Regions from separate parts of the Homo sapiens genome. Here regions 1 and 2 are each linked to region 3. The links come from fine-mapping of genetic effects on gene expression. A gene starts in region 3. Each other region holds a variant in brackets. All regions are shown on one strand. Distances are from middle to middle.

Region 1 (8,268 bases), 160 kb before region 3:
TACAAGTGTCAACTTTATCCCATAAAATGTATCCCATAAAAGTCCCTCAAAATTACTATTTCTACTGACTACATACTTACATGAATACATATCTCATAGTCAATGTAAGAATGCCAGAAGTCCTCCTTCTGAATCCTAGGATCTCGAACCCAGACACTTACAAATTCCTGTAATGGCATCATAAACAAAGAAATATTCTTCAGAACTGCAAGTAGGACTGGAAAGAACTGAACAAAACGACTGCACTAAAACAAAACTGAAATGAGCTTTAACCAATGTGGTACTTGTAATCCTTTAAAAAACAAGAAGTAAAGTTAATGAATCAGGCACCACGAGCAAATCTAGAACACACTTTTGCCACATAATGGAATTTTTAAAATAATGCAACACTGAGGTGGGAGCACTTCTGGATAGTTTTACTGGTTATCTGAAGACAAAGTATACTGTAAAACTGATTTTTAATTTTTAATCTTAAATAATTGGTTCAGGTTTTTTTCAAATTTAAAAAGTGATCATTTCTTACTTTCTTCATCTCTCTAAACTGAAACAATGGGCCCTTCTGGGTAAGGTGCTTCCTAGGACACAAATAAGAAAGGCACCAGGCCAAGCAGGGTGGCTCACACCTGTAATCCCAGCACTTTGGAAGGATCTCTTGAGCCCAGGAGTTTGAGACCAGCCTAGGCAACATGGTGAAACCCCATCTCTACAAAAAATACAAAATTAGCCAGGCGCAGTGTGGTGCATGCCTGTAGTCCCAGCTACTCAGGAGGCTGAGGAGGGTGGATCACTTGAGCCCAGGAGGTCAAGGCTACAGTGAGCCTTGATTGTGCCACTGCACTCCAGCCTGGGCAAAAGAGCGAGACCCTGTATCAAAAGAAGAAAAAGAAAGGACACCAAAGCTCATGGGAAAAGTAAGCAAAGAGGGTTGAAGTTGACTTTGTGCATGCATCCCAGCCACATGAGAATAAGCGATAATAACTTATTAATAGAAAGAGGAACACCTTCTTTTACATAATACTTTTCTATTTTTAAAATACATTTCCCCTACATTAAATCATTTCATCTTCATAATACCTTTGTGTTATACATAGAAGTTAGGGATATTAAAAATCATATACAGTAGATAATTTTGTTCTTTTATAAAGATAATAAGAATAGAAAACATGGGGCAAAATTTAAAACAATAGGCCGGGCGCAGTGGCTTACGCCTGTAATCCCAGCACTTTGGGAGGCCGAGGCGGGCAGATCACAAGGTCAAGAGATTGAGCCCATCCTGGCCAACATGGTGAAACACTGTCTCTACTAAAACTACAAAAATCAGCTGGGCGTGGTGGCGTGTGCCTGTAGTCCCAGCTACTTGTGAGGCAGGAGAATCGCTTTAACTCAGGAAGCGGTGGTTGCAGTGAGCCGAGATCGCATCACTGCACTCCAGCCTGGCGACAGAGCAAGTCTCCGTCTCAAAAAAAAAAAAAATTAAAACAATACTTTTTAACAGGTGCTCTTTACTAAATAGGTTTAGTTTAAAAATTTGAAAATGTACAGCAAAAAACTATCATGTTTCACATAAGTTTTTAAGTATAACTTATTTACTCAGTGATCATAAACTTGCTAACTGAGTTTGATTTTAAATATTAGAGCTTTTTGATAAGATTGGGAGTTCAATGCTGGAATTCAGGCATTTCTTATTGCTTGTTGGGGCACATCTGAGAGGCAGGCTATGAACGCTTGAGAGCAGAAGAAAAAGAGAGATCGGGGGCTTTCTGGACAAAGCACCTCCATTGAATCATGCAGATAATTAAATGAGACTCTTCATCATAGAGGATTTTTTTTAATCAAAAAAATACACCACACTCTGAAAATAACTTTTGCCCCTATCAAGTTTCACCTTCTAGGGCAACACTTTGTCCTTGCACTGGAGACTTCTGTCCCACTACTTGTCTTTAGTAGACAGGGATTATGAATTACTGTTCCAAAAAGTCTTCTTTTAAAATATTTTCATTGTGTATTTTTAAAATCATTTAGGGGATAGAATAAGAACAAGATAGGCAGGGCTCACACCTGTAATCCCAGCACTTTGGGAGGCTGAGGCGGGTGGATCACCAGAGGTCGGGTGTTCGAGACCAGCCTGGCCAACATAGTGAAACCCCATCTCTACTAAAAATACAAAAATTAGCTGGGCATGGTGTTGGGCGCCTGTAATCTCAGCTACTCAGGAGGCTGAGGCAGGAAAATTGCTGGAACCCAGGAGGCGGAGGTTGCAGCAAGATCACGCCACTAAATGCACTCCAGCCCGGGCCAACAACAGCAAGACTTGGTCAAAAAAAAAAAAAAAAAAACACAAGATAACACTATAGTGATGCTCTTTGGCCATTATTTCTTTTCTTTTTTCTGTTTTTTGAGATAGGGTCTCACTCTGTCACCCAGACTGGAGTGCAGTGGTACGATCTCAGCTCACTGCAGCCTCAAACTCCAGGGCTAAAATGATCCTCCTACCTTAGCCAACCCCGCCCCCAGTAGCTGGACTACAGGCGGGTGCCACCATGCCCAGCTAATTTTTTAATTTTTTTAGAGATGGGGTCTTGCTATGTTGCCCAGGCTGATTCTGAACTCCTAGGCTCAAGCAACACCCCTGCCTCAGCCTCCCAAAGTGCTGGGATTATAGGCATGAGCCACTGTGCCCCAGCCAGTATTTCTTCTTCTCTATTTCTTTATTTTTTTCATGCGCATTAAGAGACAACCATCATTTCTTAAAAGCACATTCTAAATTATAAGAGGGATTTAAAAACCATTTTTAAACCAAATATCCATAATATCCCCTAATCACAGTGTGATAAAGCAGATTCTGCCCAGGGATGGAAACAGAAGCAAAAATCCAGGTACTCTGCTCTTGGCCTATGCTTTTCACCTCCATCTCTTGTCACCGTGTATGTGTGTGTGTCTCTTAAACTTTTAAATGCACACTCAAAATTCATTGCAGCACTAAGACTCCACATATTGTTTCAATCCTGAAAATCTTTAATTTGGTTGGAGTGCTAAATATCACTATTCTCTTGTGGATGGCAAACTTCTTCCCTCTCTGCATCCTGAAACGTTTCTGTGCCTGAGAGCCAACCCAGGCTGTTGTTCTTTGCACACTATTGCAATTCTAGGGTGACCTCATCCAAACACATTCAACCCCCTCCCATGAGCTGATGGACCCCACCCAAAGCTCCATCCCAGTGCAGGCACCTCTCCCATGGATCCAGCCTCTAGCCTGATCCACCTAGAAGTCCCTTGAGCACGCCATGTCCATACCCTTCCCACAGCATCCTGCTCCCCTTCTCAGTGAAGAGCATCTCCCACCAACCCCAGCTAGAAACCCAGTTCTCCTAGACCCCTCTGTTTGACTCATTCCCCAAATCCACACAGACCAAGTCCTTCATAGTCATTCTCCTTGGAACCACTGACAACTATTCCCTCTGCTACTGCCTTGGTTCAAGGACCTCTTGCCCAACATTAATGCAAGAACTGCTAATTTATTTC[G/T]GGGCCCATATCCAGTGCATTCCCCACATGAAGACAAGAATGGCTCCAAAACACGTATCTGATGATGTTGCTTTCCTTCTGAAAATCCTTCAAAGGTTGCCCCATAACCTTCAAGTTCAAACTCCTCAGCTAGCACAATACAGCCTTTCATGATTTTCACTCTGCTTATCTTCAAAGGCTAAGCATAGGTCCCCATAAGCAACATGCCACTTCACACTTCCATGCCTTTAACTAAGCTGTTCTCTGCCTGGATTGCTAGGCCACCCTACTGCCTTTTTTTTTTTTTTTTTTTAATCTTCTCTTTTCTTCTACTATTTTTTGCCAACTCCAATTCATTTTTCAAATGCAACTCGGTCACCACTTTTTCTGGGAACCCTTCTCAGATTCACCCAGTATGACTTATTTGACCCTCCTCTGGGCCCCTAATGTCTCTGGGATTGCCTTGGGCATAGTCCCTACTCACCACATCCTACTGTGCTGTATTGTAATTACCTGTAGGCCTCCTCTAGCAGACGCTAAGCTCCTGTAGGGCAGCTTAGGCTGTCTTGTAAGACTTGAATGCCTCATACATCCAATGCCTTCCATTAGTATCATTTAATGAATAAATAAATGCCTGTAGGAATAAACAAACTGCCTTCAGGAAAGGAAAATCAAACTTCACTTGAAATTAAAACCTCATCTACTTGGGTTCTTGGGCTCCATGAATTAATGATAAGTTATTTAGCAGCTGGTCTAAGTTTATCTTAATTTAACAAACCCCTTCCTCTAAGGATGTGCCAATTAACAGCATAAGGATCCAAGAGCAATGTTTAAGATCTGGGAGAACAAACTGTTTTCTAGCACCCTAAAGAACTCCAGAAGCACCTATTTACATAGAAATAATTGAAAATCCTTCTGATAGCTTCAGTAACTTAGTCCCCTAAGACTTGTACCAGGCAACAATTTGTTGGCCTAGTGGGAGTTAAAATATGTACTTGAAAGTAATAAAAGTACATTTATTTTAAAATATTCTATAATTCACATGGGTCTCCTCCTCCCCCACTCTGCAATTAGTAGGAATTAGTGAAGTTTCCCCATACTCTCAGCTACAAATAGCACACCCAGGAAGCCAAGGTTCACCTCTAATCTCTTAATTAGACGCATCCCTCACGACACTGCCCGCCATCCTTCAAAGGAATGTTGACAGGCTGTCAGCCACAGAGGACAGTTCCACAGCCCCTTACCTAGAATCATATGGATTTCCTAGGAAAATTGCTTCAGCAGCTGCAGTTAGTCAATTTAATAACCTTATTAAACACTTTAATGACTTCTTGGGCCTAATGACTATATGTAGTATGAGAAAGCCAGGCAGAGTGGAATTAAAAATTTAGACTAACTGTCCCTGCTGTTCTCCATGTGAAAACAGACTTCTAAAGAAAGACTCCTAGACTCTTTGAAGATCTAATTCCTGTGTTATCCTATAATAATCAGCCTTTGATTTCAATGTTCCCTGTTTTTCCCCCATCCCCACACCCCAGGTTTGACCATTATCCACTTCTACCCTATCATTTTTTTCCTTAGCCCTTAAGTGAGATGAAACTAATAATAAAAATAACTGTATTGTATTATACCAGGGCACTTGACATGTGGCAGGCATTATACCGTTTCACAAATGTTTTCTTCAATCTTTACAACAACCCTCAGAGCTCAGTATATTCTCATCCTACTTTACAGATTTTTTAAATGAGGCTTCTAAAGCTTAAGCAACTGGCCCAAAGTCAAATGACCAGCCTGAGCTAAGTTTCAAACTCAGATCTGCCTTGTTCCAAAGACTGTACTCTCAAACATGTTCTATCTCGTGATTCTTTTACTAATAATAAATATTAGGCAATTTCCAATTTCACTGTAATTGTATTGTTTTGGAGGGGGAAGTTTTTTCTGCTTTTATTAGCTAAAATGCCAGTTCAGACAACATGCTCTTCTCAAACTCTGTCCTTCTGGCTTCTTAAAGCTTTGTATTTCATTTTTGTATTTCTAGCACCAAGCATGGTACTAGCACATAGTAAGTGCATATTAAATGTTTCAGAATTAACCAACTGATTGACAAGATTTTTTAAAAAGCAGAGGTCCTCTATGCTGAAAATCTAAGATGCTATTGAAAGGAATCAAAGCAGAGACACACTATGTTCATAAATTGGAAGACGCAACATAGTAAAGAGAGAAATTCTCCCCAAATTGATCTGTAGGTTTAACACAATTCCTATAAAAAATCTCAGCAAGACTTTTTTTGAAGACATAGATGGGCTTATTCTAAAATTTATATGGAAAGGGAAATGTCTTAGAATAGCCAAAAAATTTTTGAAAAAGAATAAAGTGGGAGGAAGCCTTCTTCCCAATGTTAAGGCTACAGCAGCAAGACAATGGAGTCCTAGAGAGGGATAGACACAGAAGATCAGTGAAAGAGAACAGAAAACCCAGAGGGAGACCTACACAAATACGCCCACCTGATTTTTGACAAAGGTGCAAAAACAATTCAAAGGAGAAGGAAAAGCCTCTCAACAAATGATTATGGAACAACTGGACATCCACAGGCCAAGAGATGAACCTCAACCTAAAGCGTGCACCTTATACAAAAATCAACACCAACCAAACCACAGATGTAAATGTCAAACACAAAACATCAGAGAAAACTTTTAGAAAAACTTTTAGAAAAAAAAAAAATCAAAGAAAATCTTTCGGCCTAGGACTAGGAGAAGAGTTCTTCAACTTATCTCAAAAGGGCAATCCACATAAGGAAAAAGTGATCAATTAGGCTTCACCAAACTAAAAATCTTTGCTTTGCAAAAGATGCCGTGAATAAGGTTAAAAGGGCAAATTAAAGATTGAAGAAATATTTGCAAACTACACATCCCATAAAGGACTTGCATCTAGAATATATTTTAAAAAAAAACAAAACTATCAGACGGGTGAGGTGGCTCTCTCCTGTAATCCCAGCACTTTGGGAGGCCAAGGTGGGAGGATCACTTGAGCTCAGGAGTTCAAGACCAGCCTGGGAAACATGGTGAAACATTTAAAAACTAATTAAACAAACATTTAAACAAACATTTAAAAACTAATTAAAAATTAGCTGAGTGTACTGGCTCACACTTGTAGTCCCAGCTACTCAGGAAGCTGAGGTGGGAGGATTGCTTGAGCCTGGTGGGTGGGTGGGAGGTTGCAGTGAGCTGAGATCACACCACTGCACTCCAGCCTCAACAAGAGAGACCCTGTCTCAAAACACTCATTCACTTACTCTTATTTAAAAAATAGAATTCAATTAGAAAACAAGCAAAAGATATGAAGAGACATTTCACCCAAATAGGGCATACAGATGGCAAACAAGCACGTAGAAAGATGTTCGACATCGTTAACCACTAGGGAAATACAATTAACCCTACAATGATATATCATACATACCTATTACAGTTTCCAGGGGGATTATCACTATTTTTTATTTTAGCCATTGTGATAGGTGTGTTTTTTAAAATTTTCCATCATAGCTTAGTTTGAATCTTTGTAGCACAGTAAAGATGAGTAGGTGTTAACTGTAAAAATATTTACTTAGATTACAGAAAGATCACAAAAGACGAAAGCTAATAAAGCAGAATGTCTAGGTGTTAAGTGAATACTAATTTTTCATAGCTTTGATGAGAATTTTCTAACATAAAAATGTAAACTTGTCTCAGTTTGTTCTTTTTCTTGGGACATTTTTTTTCCTATTTCAAAGTAGTGTTTTACATGTTCATGTATTTACACTGGAGACTCATTCATTCACTTAAAATATATTGTGCAACAACAATGCGCTAGGTACTTTTCCATACAACTAATGATTATAGAATTTACCAGTGTGGGCTGGGCGTGGTGGCTCAAGCCTATAATCCCAGCACTTTGGGAGGCCAAGGCAGGCAGATTACCTGAGGTGAGGAGTTTGAGAACAGCCTGGCCAACATGGTGAAACCCCGTCTCTGCTAAAAATACAAAAATTAGCCAGGTGTGGTGGCACACACTTGTAATCCCAGCTACTCGGGAGGCTGAGGCAGGAGAATTGCGTGAGTCTGGGAGGCGGAGGTTGCAGTGAGCAACTGAGATCGTGCCACTGCACTCCAGCCTGGCCGACAGACCAAGACTCTGTCTCCCCACCAAAAAAAAAAAAAAAAAAAAAAAGCATTTACCAGTGTGTTAATCACCAGAGTGCTATTCAGGACCCCCATATAACAATTTCACAACTAAAATCTAGCACATTTCATATACTATATTCTTTACAAATAACAAAATAGAAGGGCAAAAGGAATATATCAAGCAACCTTTCTTTATTTCCTAATAACAGCTGTAACAAATAACTTAAGAGACATATGACAAGGGATATTACTTGCCACTCTACAGCATGGAGTATGTTTAAATACCATCCTCTGGTGGTACTGAATGATGATTTTTTGAGAAGCTTTTATTACTTCAGGATAAACAACTGTGAATGAGATTTAGCTAGACCTGCCTTTTACATGACTTATAATAGCTCACAATGTTGCAAGTTTCTTTACACAAGTAGTATCCCAAATCAGCGAGTTACCTTTTCATATCTTGTAACACATCAGGAAAAGTGCAGAAAAAAAAAACCTCCTCTTCTGCAGTAAGAAATAATTGGCATCCACAAGGATGCAATCAGCAAAATCTAGAATGTGAAAACCTCCATAAGGCAAAAGATGCAATTTCTTCCACAAATAAATTGCA
Region 2 (8,268 bases), 46 kb after region 3:
TAGTTGAGACTCGGGCCTTGAAGGACCCAAGACACCTTCACACCCATGGTATCTTTGAAGTTCTGCAAACACAATGTCATGAATGATAAGTGCTCAACAGACAGACACTGGCTGAACTGACCTCTGCTCCTAACCCTGTCCCTGGGTGCTATTTCAGGTGAAAGCCAAGACCCAGTCTCCACATTCCAGCCACTGCAGTTCAAAGGAGAGGATGCCAAGTCCTATAGAAGAAATGTTACAGAGTGCAATAGGGCTCAAAGGGAAGAACAGGAAATGTTTTATGGATGAGGTGATGGTTGAGCTGAGTTTGAGAATTTAACCATAAAAGACTTGAGAGGAATGAAAGGAAGGCATTCCGGGCAAAGGTAAGAACAGACTAAAGGGCAGGAGATCATAGGGTTGTTGGGCAAAGGGATGAAGAAAGTTTTCTCCTGGAAAGAAGGCTACATGGAGAGGCCCAGCAAGAGCAGCTGGGGGCTGGGTCACATAAGCCACAAGGGCAGCCCTGAATGACAAAATACTGAATAAGTAGGCAATGGCGAGCTAGAGGAGGCATCCCACAAAACGCAGAGAGACGAACCAAGGTGTGCTTTGGAAACCTGCACCTGACAACACAATGGACGGGAGTAAATTGGGGAAGAAGCGGTACAAGCCCCACCTGAATTATTAATAGTGTATCAACCCTGCTCAACTTGCACTATCTCATTCAATCCTCACCACCACTTCCCTAAGGTGCTCTTACTATTCCATTTTACGGATAAGGGAACCAAGGCTCAGAGCACTTAAGAAGTGTGCCCCAGATCACACAGCCAGTGTGGCACTGGGATCTTCCCCAGCTGGTCTGACTCCAGGGCCAGCACACAAGACCCCTAGACCAGCCTGCCTCAAGTCAGGGCTTGGGCCCTGCATGCTCATTTCCCACTGTGTGGGTTGAGAAGTAGGGGTCATGGAAAGAAGGAGAATGATACAAGAGACTTGGCAAAGATGATTTCTCTGTAACCTACTAATGGAGGGGAAATACTGACTGGAAAAAGATGGTTTGAGCCAAGCTTCCTCAGGGTTGCACATCAAGCCAGCAAAACCCCAGATTTTCTCAGGAGCACACACCAAGTCCTATGCAAATGATCCTCCATATAGACCAGCTGCTTTCAGAAACAGCTCAGTTAGCTTTTAATCATAAGCAAGCTGAACACCCCAAGAATTGATGGAAGGAAGATGGTGATTGTTATAGATTGAACTGTGTCCCCAAAATTCATGTTGAACTCCTAACCCCCATACTTTGGAAACTGGGTCCATTGCAGATGTAACTAGGTAAGTTAAGATAGGAAGGAAGGTAGACCCTTATCCAATGATGTCCTTATAAAAAGGGAAATCTGGCCAGCCTGGGTAACATGGCAAAACCCTCGTCTCTACAAAAATTAAAAAATTAGCTGGGCGTGGTGGCAGGCGCCTGTAATCTCAGCTACTTGGGAGGCTGAGGCAGGAGAATCGCTCGATCCTGGGAGGCAGAGGTTGCAGTGAGCCGAGATTGCGCCATTGAATTCCAGCCTGGGAGACAGAGCAAGATTCCATCTCAAAAATAAAAAACAAAACAAAACAAAAAAACCCCAACAACAAAAAAGGGAAATTTGGATACAGACATGCACATAGGGAGAATGCCATGTGAAGATGAAGGCAGAGCTCAGGTGATGGAGAAGAAACCAAGGAATGCCAAAGATTGCCAGCAAACCACCAAAAGGCAGGAGAGAGCTGTAGAACACTTTCTCCCTCACAGCCCGCAGAAGGGCCAATCTGCTGACACCTTGATCTTGGACTTCTTGCCTCCAGAACTGTTAGAGAATAAATTTCTGTTTAAGCCACCCAGTCTGTGGTATTTGTTATGGCAGCCCTAGCAAATTCATACAGTAACTTATGACATCCTTTCCCATACAAAGACAATAGTGCACCTTTACAACTTCCTTTAGTAAACAAAATGAAAATCCCACTGTGAACGCTTGTCATAAACGCAATGTATGTAATTATAAGACTATTTCCGTAACATAGCTGTGAGTTAAAAACAGGCAAATGTCTGAAATTTCATCTCTTGTCCAATTGCCCAGGAGTTAGGGACTATTTTTTATTCTGAAATGAAAAACAATTTTTACTTTAACAATCAAGGACCTTCTTTCTCTTTCCTTTACTCTTAGAATTAAATATTGAGGCCAGGTGCAGTAGCTCATGCCTGTACTTGAGCCCAGGAGTTTGAGACCAGCCTGGGCAACACAGAGAGACCTTATTTCTATTAAAAAAAAAAAAAATCAGCCAGAAGCAGTGGTGCGCGTCTGTAGTCCCAGCTACTTGGGAGGCTGAGGTGGGAGAATTGTTTGAGTCCAGGAGGTTGAGGTAGCAGTGAGCTGTGATGGTACTACTATACTCCAGCCTGGGAGGCAAAGTGACCCTGTCCCAAAAAAAATTAAATATTGACTGGATCAGATTCTCTCTGTGCCCTGAAGAAACCAGCCCAACAGTTTCTTTTCTTTTTTTTTCTTTTGAGATGGAGTCTCGCTTTGTCACCCAGGCTGGAGTGCAGTAGAGCGATCTCGGCTCACTGCACCCTCCGCCTCCCAGGTTCAAGCGAGTCTCTTGCCTCAGGCTCCCGAGTAGCTGGGACTACAGGCACGTGCCACCGTGCCCGGCTAATTTTTAGTATTTTTAGTAGAGACGGGGTTTCACCGTGTTGGCTAGGATGGTCTCGATGTCTTGATCTCGTAATCCTCCTGCCTCGGCCTCCCAAAGTGTTGGGATTACAGGTGTGAGCCACCACACCCGGCCCAGCCCAACAGTTTCTTCAGGCAGTTAATCAAGAGGTCTTACCAGACCCCTCACCCAGCAGAGGGTCTCTGTACCAGGATAGGAAACCACATCAAAATGACTACAAGCCCTCTCAGTTTCAAAGTGGCAACAGCTCTCTGAAATACTGAAGCTGGCTGTAGGCAGCTGTTCCATACGTTTACACATTCAATTCTACAAAAACTGTTCATTTCTTTGTTTAACCTGTGTGTTACTTGGAAGAATGCATGCTTCATCCGTTGTGAATGACTGTGGTTATGAAGGGAAGCGTGTCAGCCCTGGGGAATTCCAGAGTCAGTTTTCAGATCATGATAAGCCCCAGTAAGAAGTGAAACCAAAACAGTACTCCTTTTGATACTTGGAAAATCCCCTACTCCAAAATATTTTTGCATATGTACATAAATTATGGAAAATTATACTATAAAACTCCTGCAACTCAAATGTAAGCCACCGGAATTATCTATTTTTTAAAATTAAAAATTATGTTCCTATGGGACAAAGCACTTCGTCTCTTTGAAGTTAACAGTAGCTAACATTTACTAACTAAGCACTTAAGTGACAGGCAAGTTCTAA[G/A]CCCTTTACATGGAATGAACTTTTTAATTCTCACATCAACCCTCTGAGGTAAGCCCCTTCTGATTCCCATTGTGCATGGGAATGCACACAGAATGAAGCACAGAAAGGATAAGCAACTTGTCCAAGGTCACAGACGTGGTAGAGCTGGGATTCAAAACCAGGCAGTCTGGGTCTAGCATACCCCACTTCTTCAATAACCAACCAAACTAGATATGCAGACAAGCCAAAAGGAATCCAGTGAGTGGGGACAGGTGAAGGAGGGTGGGTTAAGGACGGAGGGCAGAAGAGCGCAGCTACAATCCAGGCACCATGCTGCTCTTCCCATGGGCTTTTCCCACTTAATCAGCACACCTCCCCCTGGAGTACACATTCCTCTCCCACTTGACATGAGACACTGAAGCTTGGAGTGATTCAAGCAGCTTATGGGAGGGCATACTAGCAGGTGATACTCCCAAACCCAGGTCTAGCTGACCGCAAAGACCAGTGTTGTTTTTCCAGCCCATTTTCTCCCCAAAGTCATGGTTCCAAATTGCAACCTCTTCATTATGAATGGCACAATCTAGCACTGGAGAGTGATTAGCCTGGGCAGTGGAAGGCTGAGTCACCCCATCCCAGATGCACTGAGACGTCCTAGATGTCCCAAGAGCTTGAGTACCGTGTAGGTACTTAATTAATGTGCCAGTCTGAGAGTCAAGAGACTCAGGCTCTGGTCTCTCTTTTGGCACTGACATGTGGCTTTAGCCAAATCCCTAACCTAGGCTTCTAGTTTTCTTCTTCTTCTTCATTTTTTTTCTTTTTGAGACAGAGTCTCACTCTGTCACCCAGGCTGGAGTTCAGTGGCACAATCTCGGCTCACTGCAACCTCCGCCGCCCAGATTCAAGTGATTCTCGTGCCTCAGCCTCCCGAGTAGCTGGGACTACGGGCATGTGTAATCACGCCCAAGTAATTTTTGTATTTTTAGTAAAGATGGGGTTCACCATGTTGCCCAGTCTGGTCTCGAACTCCTGACCTCAAGTGATCTGCCTGCCTCAGCCTCCCAAAGTGCTGGGATAACAGGTGTGAGCCACCGCACTCAGCCCTATTTTTCTTAAGTACAAATTGTATATAAGGGTGCCTGGCCAGTGCACCACACAAGGTTGATGTAAAAGGCAACAAAAGTGAACTGGCCGTGACAACTGTAAGGAGCTGGACAGCTGATTTTTGCCAGATTGAATGTAACCAGGTCATCCCAGCAGTGAACATGGTGCACACATGCCAGCCCAGCCAGGAAGGCACTGCCAGGAGAATGGTTCTCGGGGAACTTCACTCTCTCCCCTAGGAAAGCTGGATTCAGAGCCTCCACAGTGGTTTGGCTGGCCTAGGCTCAAAAAATGCCTCCAAGGCAGGCCTGCCAGTCTAGGCCACCCATGGTGGCTCATGCCTGTAAACCCAGCACTTTGGGAGGCTGAGATGGGATGGGTACTTGAGCCAAGGAGTTCGAGACCAGCCTAGGCAACATAGCGAGACCTGTCTCTACAAAAAATCAGCCAGTATGGTGGTGCACGCCAGTTCTCCTAGCTACCTGGGAGACTGAAGTGGAAGGATTGCTGGAGCCGGGGAGGTTGAGGCTGCAGTGAGTCGTCATTGCACCTTTGCACTCCAGCCTGGGCAACAGAGCAAGACCCTGTCTTTAAAACAAAACAAACAAAAAAACAGCCAAGGGAAGGCCACTTTGTCTCCCAGGTGATGCCGGGAGGGAAGTTTCCGAGGACTGAACAGCTTCCTCTCTTCTCCCTCCAGGTCCCTGTGCACTTTGCACACAGGTTGGCATTCGGGTGTGGGTGGCAGAGTGCCATCTGGTACAGCATCCAGCACTAGGTTTCAACTCTGTGTTACAGAACCAGGAATGGTGGTAGTGCACAAGTACTCACTTATTAGAGGGCAGAGCATTTAGGTGAGACAGACCCCATGGGGTCCAGATTGGATGAGTGAGTGGGGAAGAACCTCCCACAGTATATCCTGAACACAGAAGGATCCCTCCAAGACTCTCACTGGCCCCCACCCCATTGGTTCCGGTCCCCAGGAAGAGGAAGGGCTCAGATCAGCATAACAGTGAATCACCGAGCACTTCCACACAATGACCCCTCCAGGAGGGTGGAGAAGCTTGTCTGGCAACAGCCTACACAAACGGCAATTCTGAAGAGCAACAAACAAACCAGTTTAGCCCCAATTCCCATTTTGCATAAGAATGCGCCCCACAAAAACAACACCCGAAGAACATTAGTTGATCACCACTGGTTGATCGTTACCAGTTGCAAACACTAAAGTTTGAGCCAAGACAGAATTTTAAAAGTCCCCTGGAAGGAACTTTGGGTAAAGTGGTTTTGTGGAAACTGGTGTTAAAGTGTCATTAGACTGAACTCAAACGTTCCATGGGGAGCACCAGATGTTTCAAGCAACAGATCTTGGTAAACTTGGTTTCAGAAAGAAGTTAAGCCAGAGAAGGGTTTGGACCCATAAACCAAAGGGAACTTGTTAGTCACTAAGTGACTGCCAAGGTACCTGTTTTCGTTATGCTAATAAGAGGTTACACAAATTCCAGGAAGGAGGATTGCTAGGTGCAGGGGATGGTTAGGTCACAGGGGGACCGCCTGCCGGCTGGCCTCTGAATAGACCCTGACCATGGCTCCTTAATCCAGGGAAGCAGCAAAAACGAACAGCAATTGGGCTGAAAACAGGGCGAAGGTCCTTGCGTTAGGCCGGGAGAGTCGTTCTTAAAAACATGCATCCTCCCAGAGGTCACGGCCTCCTTCACATCGTCCAGGTCGGGCACGGGTCCCAGAGAACGACACCCCAGTGTACATGAGGTACTGAGCGAAGACAGTGGGCATTGCTTCTCCCCTCCCCATCCCCGAACTACTCTTGCCAGCCATCACACACAAGGAAAGGTATTCTCTATAACCAAACGGATGATTTCGTCCACTTCTTCCTTAAACACCTAAAAACCACAGCGACAGCACTAGTAGCCCTTCATTCGGAATCAGAGCAGCAGCATCTGCGAACCTGCAAAGACCAGGGGCTAAGGGTGCCAGGACACAGCGAGAGTGGCCCCTGCTCAGATCCGACACAAGCCTCGGGGGCTCCCGGCGGCGTAGACGCCGCACTTCGCTCGCTTCCCGCTCTGCACCTACCTCGCTCGCACATCCGCCAGCGTCCGGCACCTGAGCCGTCGGTTCCGCGGGTGCCTTCTCCTCTTCCCCGGCGTCCAAGGGGCCACTCCGAGCCGCTCGGGGGTCCCCGCCGCCCCCCTGCACAGCCTGGCTGCCGCCGTCCACGCTGGCGCCGGCTCCTCCGGTGGACGAGGCGGCGGCGGCGCCGAGCAGCCCGTGGGCCTCGTCCGCGCTCCCGGCAGCCACGCTGTGCACCAGCCATGCATCCACGCTGGTGCGAGGGACGAAGGGGACCCCGAGCGCGCGCACCTCCCGGAGCAGCTGGCCCTCGGGCGGCGCGGCAGGGTCCAGCTCCCGGCCCTTGGGGTGCAAGTGGCCCGCGCGCCCCCACCCTCCCGAGGCCGAGAAGGGGCTGAGCGCGTAGGCGGAGCTGGCCGGGCCGCCCAGGAACAGCAGCTCGTCCTGCAGCAGGGTGGGCGGCGGCAGCAGCAGGTAAAGATCTAGGTCTACGCGGAGCCCCGCCAAGCTCAGCAGGAGGGTGAGGTGCAGGAGGCCGCCGCCGGCCGACCACCACCGCTTCAGGTGCTTCATCGCCGCCGCGCGCCCGGGAACGCCCCTGCCGGCGCCCGCGGGTCCCGGCGCCCCAGCCGCCGGGGTGACACGTGCGGACCCCGCGCGCCGCCCGCACCTGCCTGGAACCCAGATAAGCGAAACAATGGACCGGGGCGCGTGGCGGCCGTCGCGGGTTCCCAGCACCGGGCACAAAGGCGTTCCCTCGGCAGCCGGCACCGTGCCTGGCACCGCCGGGGATCGGGAGAAGCGAAGAAGGAGCCACCTGAGCGCCGAGCCCGTTCGCCCAGCCGCCCGCAGCCCGGCGCGGTGGCCAAGCTCCGCCCCCGGCCGCGGGCGCAGCCGACAGGAACACGCCCCCTGCCGCCCGGGGCCCGCGCCCGTGGGAGGGGCCGCACGGGGCGGGGCTCCCCGAGCTCAAAGCCTCTTTATGTCCGGGGAACGCAAGGCTTTCTGGGAGCAGAAGTTGTTCTGGGCACCAAGTGGCCCCTTGCCACCCTGTGGCCGTGAGCTGGGCCATCCTTGCTGAAAGCCAAGGGCGGGAGTTGGGGTGGAGGGCTAGGTGGTGGGTAGCTGGGTGGGAAGGGACAGGATGTGTAGACTGGGCGGAGAGTGACTGGGCAGCTACGAGGGGCCTGGCAGCTTGCAACGGGCTTCCACCCCAACGTGAGGACACTTGGCGGGCAGAGTGGGCAAGAGTAACCTCTCTGTCTCAGTTCCGCTATCTGTAAAATGGGGATCATAGAGCCTGTCAAACAGGGATGTGTTGAGGTCAGATGAAATATTTCGTGTAAAGTTCGGAGTTTCACATATAAATTCCACCGTTGCCATTGGGATCAGTCATCCCACCACTCCGCACACCCCAGTCCCAGCCTCACAGACCCCTCTCTCTTCTCTGGGCGTGCTCTGCATAGTGCTAGACCTCCTCTCGGTATCCTTTGCTCCTTATCCGTTGTTTCCTTGAGGGTTGACAGCACCAGCTCTACAGTTACCCTGAGTGAGTTCAAGTCCCCCCTCCACTTGAGGGGCGACCTTGGACAAATCTCTCCTTTTCTCTGTGCCTCAGTTTTCTCACTGTAAAATGAGACTAATAATAGCACCTCCCCAGCAGACCTTTTGTGAGCCCCAAATGAGATAATGCATGTA
Region 3 (8,000 bases):
GAGGTGGGCAGATCATCTGAGGTCAGGAGTTTGAGACCAGCCTGACCAACATGGAGAAACCCCGTTTCTACTAAAAATACAAAATTAGCCAGGCATAGTGGTGCATGCCTGTAATCCCAGCTACTTGGGAGGCTGAGGCAGGAGAACTGCTTGAACCCAGGAGGCTTAAGTTGCGGTGAGCCAAGATCACGCCATTGCACTCTAGCCTGGACAACAAGAGAAAAACTCTGTCTCAAAAAAACACAAAAACAAAAAACCCAAATACTATTTAAAAAAGATAAACCTTAATTGCTCAATCATTAAAGCCATCCCACAAGTAAAGCAGCAAGCAGAAAAAAGTTAAGAACACCTCAAGGCTACAGAAGGACATTTCAAGCTATGCAGGCATATGAAGTGTGCAGACAGATATGTAAGAAAGGCCTCAAGACTGCAAAAGGGCATTTCAAGCTATGCAAGCATATAGGTAACACATACACACACACAAAATAAAAATCCCCTGAAATACAAAAACATGCAGCAAACACCTGACGTTTTTGGATACCATTTCTAAGTCAGGTGTTATGATTCTCATTAGTCAAGATACTTGAGTACTGGGCCCAAACAGCTTTCTGCCACTGTACAGTACAAGAAGGTAGGAATAATGGTGGGAGGAGCAAAGACAAACTGTAATAGACAGAAGTGTATCAGATACCTATACTACATGAAAAACAAAACAGCTACTGCCACAAAGGGAGAAGGCTAACAAAATAAAGTCAACAATAAATACAGAAAATGAAAAGGATACACACTAAGGTTTACAAAAAAAAAAAGGCAGACAAAATGCCATACAGTATTCATTCACTACTATGGCATTCATAAGCTAGTTTCAAATGCTCACTATTTTCTTTTATAGTATATATTTGCCTTAACCCAGCACTTTTTTCCAAAAGTGGATGAGTCAAAATAAATTTCCCATTATTTAAGTGAAATTAACAGCACACATATCTCACAACACTAATGAATTTTTAAAATGGAAAGTTAAGAACTTTTAAAGTGGCCAACCTGTGATCCTTCACAAAATAAACTAAATACAATAACAGACCCCAAAGGCTATCAATTGCGTGCAAAAACAACTTCTGTTTTCCAGGGTAAACAGAATCTAATGCAGAATCTAATGCAGGGTAAACAGACTTAATGCAGAATCTAATGATGGCACAAATTAAAAATCACTAACGTGCCCTTTTTAGTGTGAAACCCAGAGAGAGCACATACAAGCCAAAAACAAATGCTTTATTTTACCTAGGAGACATTAACATTCACCTTTACGTGTTTAAGATTAATGCAATGTTAAATATTGTGAAAACTGTAACTTTGAATTTCATGATTTTTATGTGAATATTCCAGGGTTTAAAAAAACTTGTAACATGACATGGCTGAATAAGATAAAAAAAAAATCTAGCCTTTTCTCCCTTCTGGCTCATATTTGCGATTTCGATCATTTTGTTTAAAAAACAAAACACTGCAATGAATTAAACTTAATATTCTTCTATGTTTTAGAGTAAGTTAAAACAAGATAAAGTGACCAAAGTAATTTGAAAGATTCAATGACTTTTGCTCCAACCTAGGTGCACAAGGTACCTTGTTCTTTAAATTGGGCTTTAATGAAAATACTTCTCCAGAATTCTGGGGATTTAAGAAAAATTATGCCAACCAACAAGGGCTTTACCATTTTATGTAACATTTTTCAACGCTGCAAAAATGTGTGTATTTCTATTTGAAGATAAAAATCCTCAGCAAAATCCACATTGCACTGTCCTTCAAAGATTAGCCTTCTTTGAACTAGTTAAGACACTATTAAGCCAAGCCAGTATCTCCCTGTAATGAATTCGTTTTTCTCTTAATTTTCCCCTGTAATTTACACTGGGAGAGCTGGGAAATATGTGGATGTAAATTTCTCAGCCACAGAGATGCAAAGTTATACTGTGGGGAAAAAAAACTTGAGTTAAATCCTTACATATTTTAGGTTTTCATTAACTTACCAATGTAGTTTTGTTGGAGGCCATTTTTTATTGCAGACTTGAAGAGCTATTACTAGAAAAATGCATGACAGTTAAGGTAAGTTTGCATGACACAAAAAAGGTAACTAAATACAAATTCTGTTTGGATTCCAACCCCCAAGTAGAGAGCGCACATTTCAAACGTGAATACAAATCCAGAGTAGATCTGCGCTCCTACCTACATTGCTTATGATGTACTTAAGTACGTGTCCTAACCATGTGAGTCTAGAAAGACTTTACTGGGGATCCTGGTACCTAAAACAGCTTCACATGGCTTAAAATAGGGGACCAATGTCTTTTCCAATCTAAGTCCCATTTATAATAAAGTCCATGTTCCATTTTTAAAGGACAATCCTTTCGGTTTAAAACCAGGCACGATTACCCAAACAACTCACAACGGTAAAGCACTGTGAATCTTCTCTGTTCTGCAATCCCAACTTGGTTTCTGCTCAGAAACCCTCCCTCTTTCCAATCGGTAATTAAATAACAAAAGGAAAAAACTTAAGATGCTTCAACCCCGTTTCGTGACACTTTGAAAAAAGAATCACCTCTTGCAAACACCCGCTCCCGACCCCCGCCGCTGAAGCCCGGCGTCCAGAGGCCTAAGCGCGGGTGCCCGCCCCCACCCGGGAGCGCGGGCCTCGTGGTCAGCGCATCCGCGGGGAGAAACAAAGGCCGCGGCACGGGGGCTCAAGGGCACTGCGCCACACCGCACGCGCCTACCCCCGCGGCGGCCACGTTAACTGGGCGGTCGCCGCAGCCTCGGGACAGCCGGCCGCGCGCCGCCAGGCCTCGCGGACGCGGGACCACGCGCCGCCCTCCGGGAGGCCCAAGTCTCGACCCAGCCCCGCGTGGCGGCTGGGGGAGGGGGCGCCTCCGCCGGAACGCGGGTGGGGGAGGGGAGGGGGAAATGCGCTTTGTCTCGAAATGGGGCAACCGTCGCCACAGCTCCCTACCCCCTCGAGGGCAGAGCAGTCCCCCCACTAACTACCGGCGCTGGCCGCGCGCCAGGCCAGCCGCGAGGCCACCGCCCGACCCTCCACTCCTTCCCGCAGCTCCCGGCGCGGGGTCCGGCGAGAAGGGGAGGGGAGGGGAGCGGAGAACCGGGCCCCCGGGACGCGTGTGGCATCTGAAGCACCACCAGCGAGCGAGAGCTAGAGAGAAGGAAAGCCACCGACTTCACCGCCTCCGAGCTGCTCCGGGTCGCGGGTCTGCAGCGTCTCCGGCCCTCCGCGCCTACAGCTCAAGCCACATCCGAAGGGGGAGGGAGCCGGGAGCTGCGCGCGGGGCCGCCGGGGGGAGGGGTGGCACCGCCCACGCCGGGCGGCCACGAAGGGCGGGGCAGCGGGCGCGCGCCCGGCGGGGGGAGGGGCCGCGCGCCGCGCCCGCTGGGAATTGGGGCCCTAGGGGGAGGGCGGAGGCGCCGACGACCGCGGCACTTACCGTTCGCGGCGTGGCGCCCGGTGGTCCCCAAGGGGAGGGAAGGGGGAGGCGGGGCGAGGACAGTGACCGGAGTCTCCTCAGCGGTGGCTTTTCTGCTTGGCAGCCTCAGCGGCTGGCGCCAAAACCGGACTCCGCCCACTTCCTCGCCCCTGCGGTGCGAGGGTGTGGAATCCTCCAGACGCTGGGGGAGGGGGAGTTGGGAGCTTAAAAACTAGTACCCCTTTGGGACCACTTTCAGCAGCGAACTCTCCTGTACACCAGGGGTCAGTTCCACAGACGCGGGCCAGGGGTGGGTCATTGCGGCGTGAACAATAATTTGACTAGAAGTTGATTCGGGTGTTTCCGGAAGGGGCCGAGTCAATCCGCCGAGTTGGGGCACGGAAAACAAAAAGGGAAGGCTACTAAGATTTTTCTGGCGGGGGTTATCATTGGCGTAACTGCAGGGACCACCTCCCGGGTTGAGGGGGCTGGATCTCCAGGCTGCGGATTAAGCCCCTCCCGTCGGCGTTAATTTCAAACTGCGCGACCGTTTCTCACCTGCCTTGCGCCAAGGCAGGGGGCGGGACCCTATTCCAAGAGGTAGTAACTAGCAGGACTCTAGCCTTCCGCAATTCATTGAGCGCATTTACGGAAGTAACGTCGGGTACTGTCTCTGGCCGCAAGGGTGGGAGGAGTACGCATTTGGCGTAAGGTGGGGCGTAGAGCCTTCCCGCCATTGGCGGCGGATAGGGCGTTTACGCGACGGCCTGACGTAGCGGAAGACGCGTTAGTGGGGGGGAAGGTTCTAGAAAAGCGGCGGCAGCGGCTCTAGCGGCAGTAGCAGCAGCGCCGGGTCCCGTGCGGAGGTGCTCCTCGCAGAGTTGTTTCTCGAGCAGCGGCAGTTCTCACTACAGCGCCAGGACGAGTCCGGTTCGTGTTCGTCCGCGGAGATCTCTCTCATCTCGCTCGGCTGCGGGAAATCGGGCTGAAGCGACTGAGTCCGCGATGGAGGTAACGGGTTTGAAATCAATGAGTTATTGAAAAGGGCATGGCGAGGCCGTTGGCGCCTCAGTGGAAGTCGGCCAGCCGCCTCCGTGGGAGAGAGGCAGGAAATCGGACCAATTCAGTAGCAGTGGGGCTTAAGGTTTATGAACGGGGTCTTGAGCGGAGGCCTGAGCGTACAAACAGCTTCCCCACCCTCAGCCTCCCGGCGCCATTTCCCTTCACTGGGGGTGGGGGATGGGGAGCTTTCACATGGCGGACGCTGCCCCGCTGGGGTGAAAGTGGGGCGCGGAGGCGGGAATTCTTATTCCCTTTCTAAAGCACGCTGCTTCGGGGGCCACGGCGTCTCCTCGGCGAGCGTTTCGGCGGGCAGCAGGTCCTCGTGAGCGAGGCTGCGGAGCTTCCCCTCCCCCTCTCTCCCGGGAACCGGATTTGGCGGCCGCCATTTTCATGGCTCGCCTTCCTCTCAGCGTTTTCCTTATAACTCTTTTATTTTCTTAGTGTGCTTTCTCTATCAAGAAGTAGAAGTGGTTAACTATTTTTTTTTCTTCTCGGGCTGTTTTCATATCGTTTCGAGGTGGATTTGGAGTGTTTTGTGAGCTTGGATCTTTAGAGTCCTGCGCACCTCATTAAAGGCGCTCAGCCTTCCCCTCGATGAAATGGCGCCATTGCGTTCGGAAGCCACACCGAAGAGCGGGGAGGGGGGGTGCTCCGGGTTTGCGGGCCCGGTTTCAGAGAAGATATCACCACCCAGGGCGTCGGGCCGGGTTCAATGCGAGCCGTAGGACAAAGAAACCATTTTATGTTTTTCCTGTCTTTTTTTTCCTTTGAGTAACGGTTTTATCTGGGTCTGCAGTCAGTAAAACGACAGATGAACCGCGGCAAAATAAACATAAATTGGAAGCCATCGGCCACGAGGGGCAGGGACGAAGGTGGTTTTCTGGGCGGGGGAGGGATATTCGCGTCAGAATCCTTTACTGTTCTTAAGGATTCCGTTTAAGTTGTAGAGCTGACTCATTTTAAGTAATGTTGTTACTGAGAAGTTTAACCCTTACGGGACAGATCCATGGACCTTTATAGATGATTACGAGGAAAGTGAAATAACGATTTTGTCCTTAGTTATACTTCGATTAAAACATGGCTTCAGAGGCTCCTTCCTGTAATGCGTATGGATTGATGTGCAAAACTGTTTTGGGCCTGGGCCGCTCTGTATTTGAACTTTGTTACTTTTCTCATTTTGTTTGCAATCTTGGTTGAACATTACATTGATAAGCATAAGGTCTCAAGCGAAGGGGGTCTACCTGGTTATTTTCTTTGACCCTAAGCACGTTTATAAAATAACATTGTTTAAAATCGATAGTGGACATCGGGTAAGTTTGGATAAATTGTGAGGTAAGTAATGAGTTTTTGCTTTTTGTTAGTGATTTGTAAAACTTGTTATAAATGTACATTATCCGTAATTTCAGTTTAGAGATAACCTATGTGCTGACGACAATTAAGAATAAAAACTAGCTGAAAAAATGAAAATAACTATCGTGACAAGTAACCATTTCAAAAGACTGCTTTGTGTCTCATAGGAGCTAGTTTGATCATTTCAGTTAATTTTTTCTTTAATTTTTACGAGTCATGAAAACTACAGGAAAAAAATCTGAACTGGGTTTTACCACTACTTTTTAGGAGTTGGGAGCATGCGAATGGAGGGAGAGCTCCGTAGAACTGGGATGAGAGCAGCAATTAATGCTGCTTGCTAGGAACAAAAAATAATTGATTGAAAATTACGTGTGACTTTTTAGTTTGCATTATGCGTTTGTAGCAGTTGGTCCTGGATATCACTTTCTCTCGTTTGAGGTTTTTTAACCTAGTTAACTTTTAAGACAGGTTTCCTTAACATTCATAAGTGCCCAGAATACAGCTGTGTAGTACAGCATATAAAGATTTCAGCTCTGAGGTTTTTCCTATTGACTTGGAAAATTGTTTTGTGCCTGTCGCTTGCCACATGGCCAATCAAGTAAGCTTCAGCTTTCAGTAATTGTTATCTTAGAGATTATGCCACGTGAATGTATTTTATTGTACATATGGTTAAGCTGAGTAATTCATATTCTGTATTGTCATATATCAAATATAGACATGTCCACCAAAAATTAAACTTTTTAAGCTTCGAGTGCTGCTGGTCATAAAAATTAATTTGTCCTGGTTATAAGAGTAATTTTTAAGGTTATTTCTAATGCATATCTTTAAATATTTTCGTAACTGAGAGTCATATGGAGAAACTTAGTGTTTGTTGTAAAAAGTTGTGTTTTTTTGGCTGAGATACTTAGAATCACCACCAGAGGGGGCAGTTAAGGGAAAATAAATGATACTTTTCAGATATTGAATAGTGAAATAAAAACTTTGGGTCATAAGTAATGAACCAAGAGTTATTTTCTGATGTTTAAAAATAGAAATTTGCGTTTTTAGGTTGTAGGGTTGAAATTTTTGGTAAAGATTCTTTAATAATCCTTTGATAATCACGGTCTACATTTGTTTATTTTTCCTTAGAAAGTTTTTTTTTTAATTAATAATTTAAGATAATTTAATGTTGAGTAAATTTATATCAAGCATTAATGACTTTGAAACTTGTGTAGATCAGCTGAGGCAATTTTTTGGTGTAACACAACTAATATGCAGTTTAACATATGGTTTAAATTTGATGTAAGTTTTTTTTTTCCCCCCAGAAAACTTTAGAAACTGTTCCTTTGGAGAGGAAAAAGGTACTCTGCCAGCAGGTCACCTCATATTTAAGAATTTAATTTCCTGCATACAAAGAGGAAAATGTAAATAAAAATTGAAATGGTATTTTCCTTTGCAGAGAGAAAAGGAACAGTTCCGTAAGCTCTTTATTGGTGGCTTAAGCTTTGAAACCACAGAAGAAAGTTTGAGGAACTACTACGAACAATGGGGAAAGCTTACAGACTGTGTGGTATGTAAATTACTGAATTGTTACTGGATATTAGTCTTTTAGCTGTATGTTAAGTGAATCATGGAGGAAATAACTATCAGCATAGTAAAAAATTCTATTATGACTTCACTTATAAGCTATAATGAGATTAAATGCTAAAGTTTACCCTTTGGTTTGAAAGGTAATGAGGGATCCTGCAAGCAAAAGATCAAGAGGATTTGGTTTTGTAACTTTTTCATCCATGGCTGAGGTTGATGCTGCCATGGCTGCAAGACCTCATTCAATTGATGGGAGAGTAGTTGAGCCAAAACGTGCTGTAGCAAGAGAGGTAAGCAAACAATGACTGTCTTGTGCATTAACATGAAGAACGCTGCCCTGCTGAAAATCAGAAACTATTTCTGAATTTAGTTTTAACTCAAGATTTTTTCTCTTATTAAAGGTGTGTTGGGTTTCTGGACCATTTTCTTAAGCTAGCTTATTTTTCAAAAGCTAGGTCCCTAAAAGCTATTTTATATCTGGTAGTTTTAAGGTGGATACAAGCGAAGTATGGTACTACGGTTGGGTGCTTTGAATTATGCTTGTGTTTTTTTCTGTTTGGATGA

Which allele goes with the higher level. Positions count from the first base shown, and alleles are read on the strand shown. Sizes are in standard deviations (SD) of each study's normalised expression. Not every link is listed here.
For the expression in subcutaneous fat of the gene that starts at base 3,296 in region 3, allele T in region 1 goes with a higher level than allele G (small effect, 0.16 SD a copy in GTEx).

Evidence for each region. PIP is the estimated chance that this variant, and not a neighbour inherited with it, causes the effect.
Region 1: its variant is fine-mapped to the expression of CBX3 in subcutaneous fat (GTEx, PIP 0.97).
Region 2: its variant is fine-mapped to the expression of CBX3 in whole blood (TOPMed, PIP 0.95).

The regions. Positions count from the first base shown.
Region 1 is chr7:26,352,874-26,361,141 of GRCh38, reverse strand. It overlaps SNX10 (sorting nexin 10), which reads right to left. Exons shown (of 7, transcript NM_013322.3): 3 at 81-167. Among named protein-coding and RNA genes, the nearest start is that of LINC02981, 42 kb to the left of the region's middle. The variant G/T (reference allele first, on the strand shown) is at 3,523.
Region 2 is chr7:26,151,374-26,159,641 of GRCh38, reverse strand. NFE2L3 (NFE2 like bZIP transcription factor 3) reads right to left here and starts at 7,444. Exons shown (of 4, transcript NM_004289.7): 1 at 6,574-7,444. The coding sequence starts at 7,143. RefSeq lists silencers at 1-233, 6,666-6,735, 6,746-6,995, 7,106-7,175, 7,186-7,255 and 1 more and enhancers at 285-785, 786-1,286, 2,196-2,245, 2,446-2,525, 6,356-6,545 and 2 more. The variant G/A (reference allele first, on the strand shown) is at 3,403.
Region 3 is chr7:26,197,041-26,205,040 of GRCh38, reverse strand. It overlaps CBX3 (chromobox 3), which reads right to left and starts at 3,296. Exons shown (of 6, transcript NM_016587.4): 1 at 3,215-3,296; 2 at 2,019-2,070. The coding sequence starts at 2,042. HNRNPA2B1 (heterogeneous nuclear ribonucleoprotein A2/B1) reads left to right here and starts at 4,295. Exons shown (of 11, transcript NM_002137.4): 1 at 4,295-4,469; 2 at 7,309-7,419; 3 at 7,580-7,726. The coding sequence starts at 4,464. RefSeq lists a silencer at 2,592-3,411 and enhancers at 4,352-4,741, 3,907-4,879, 4,852-4,971, 4,880-5,853.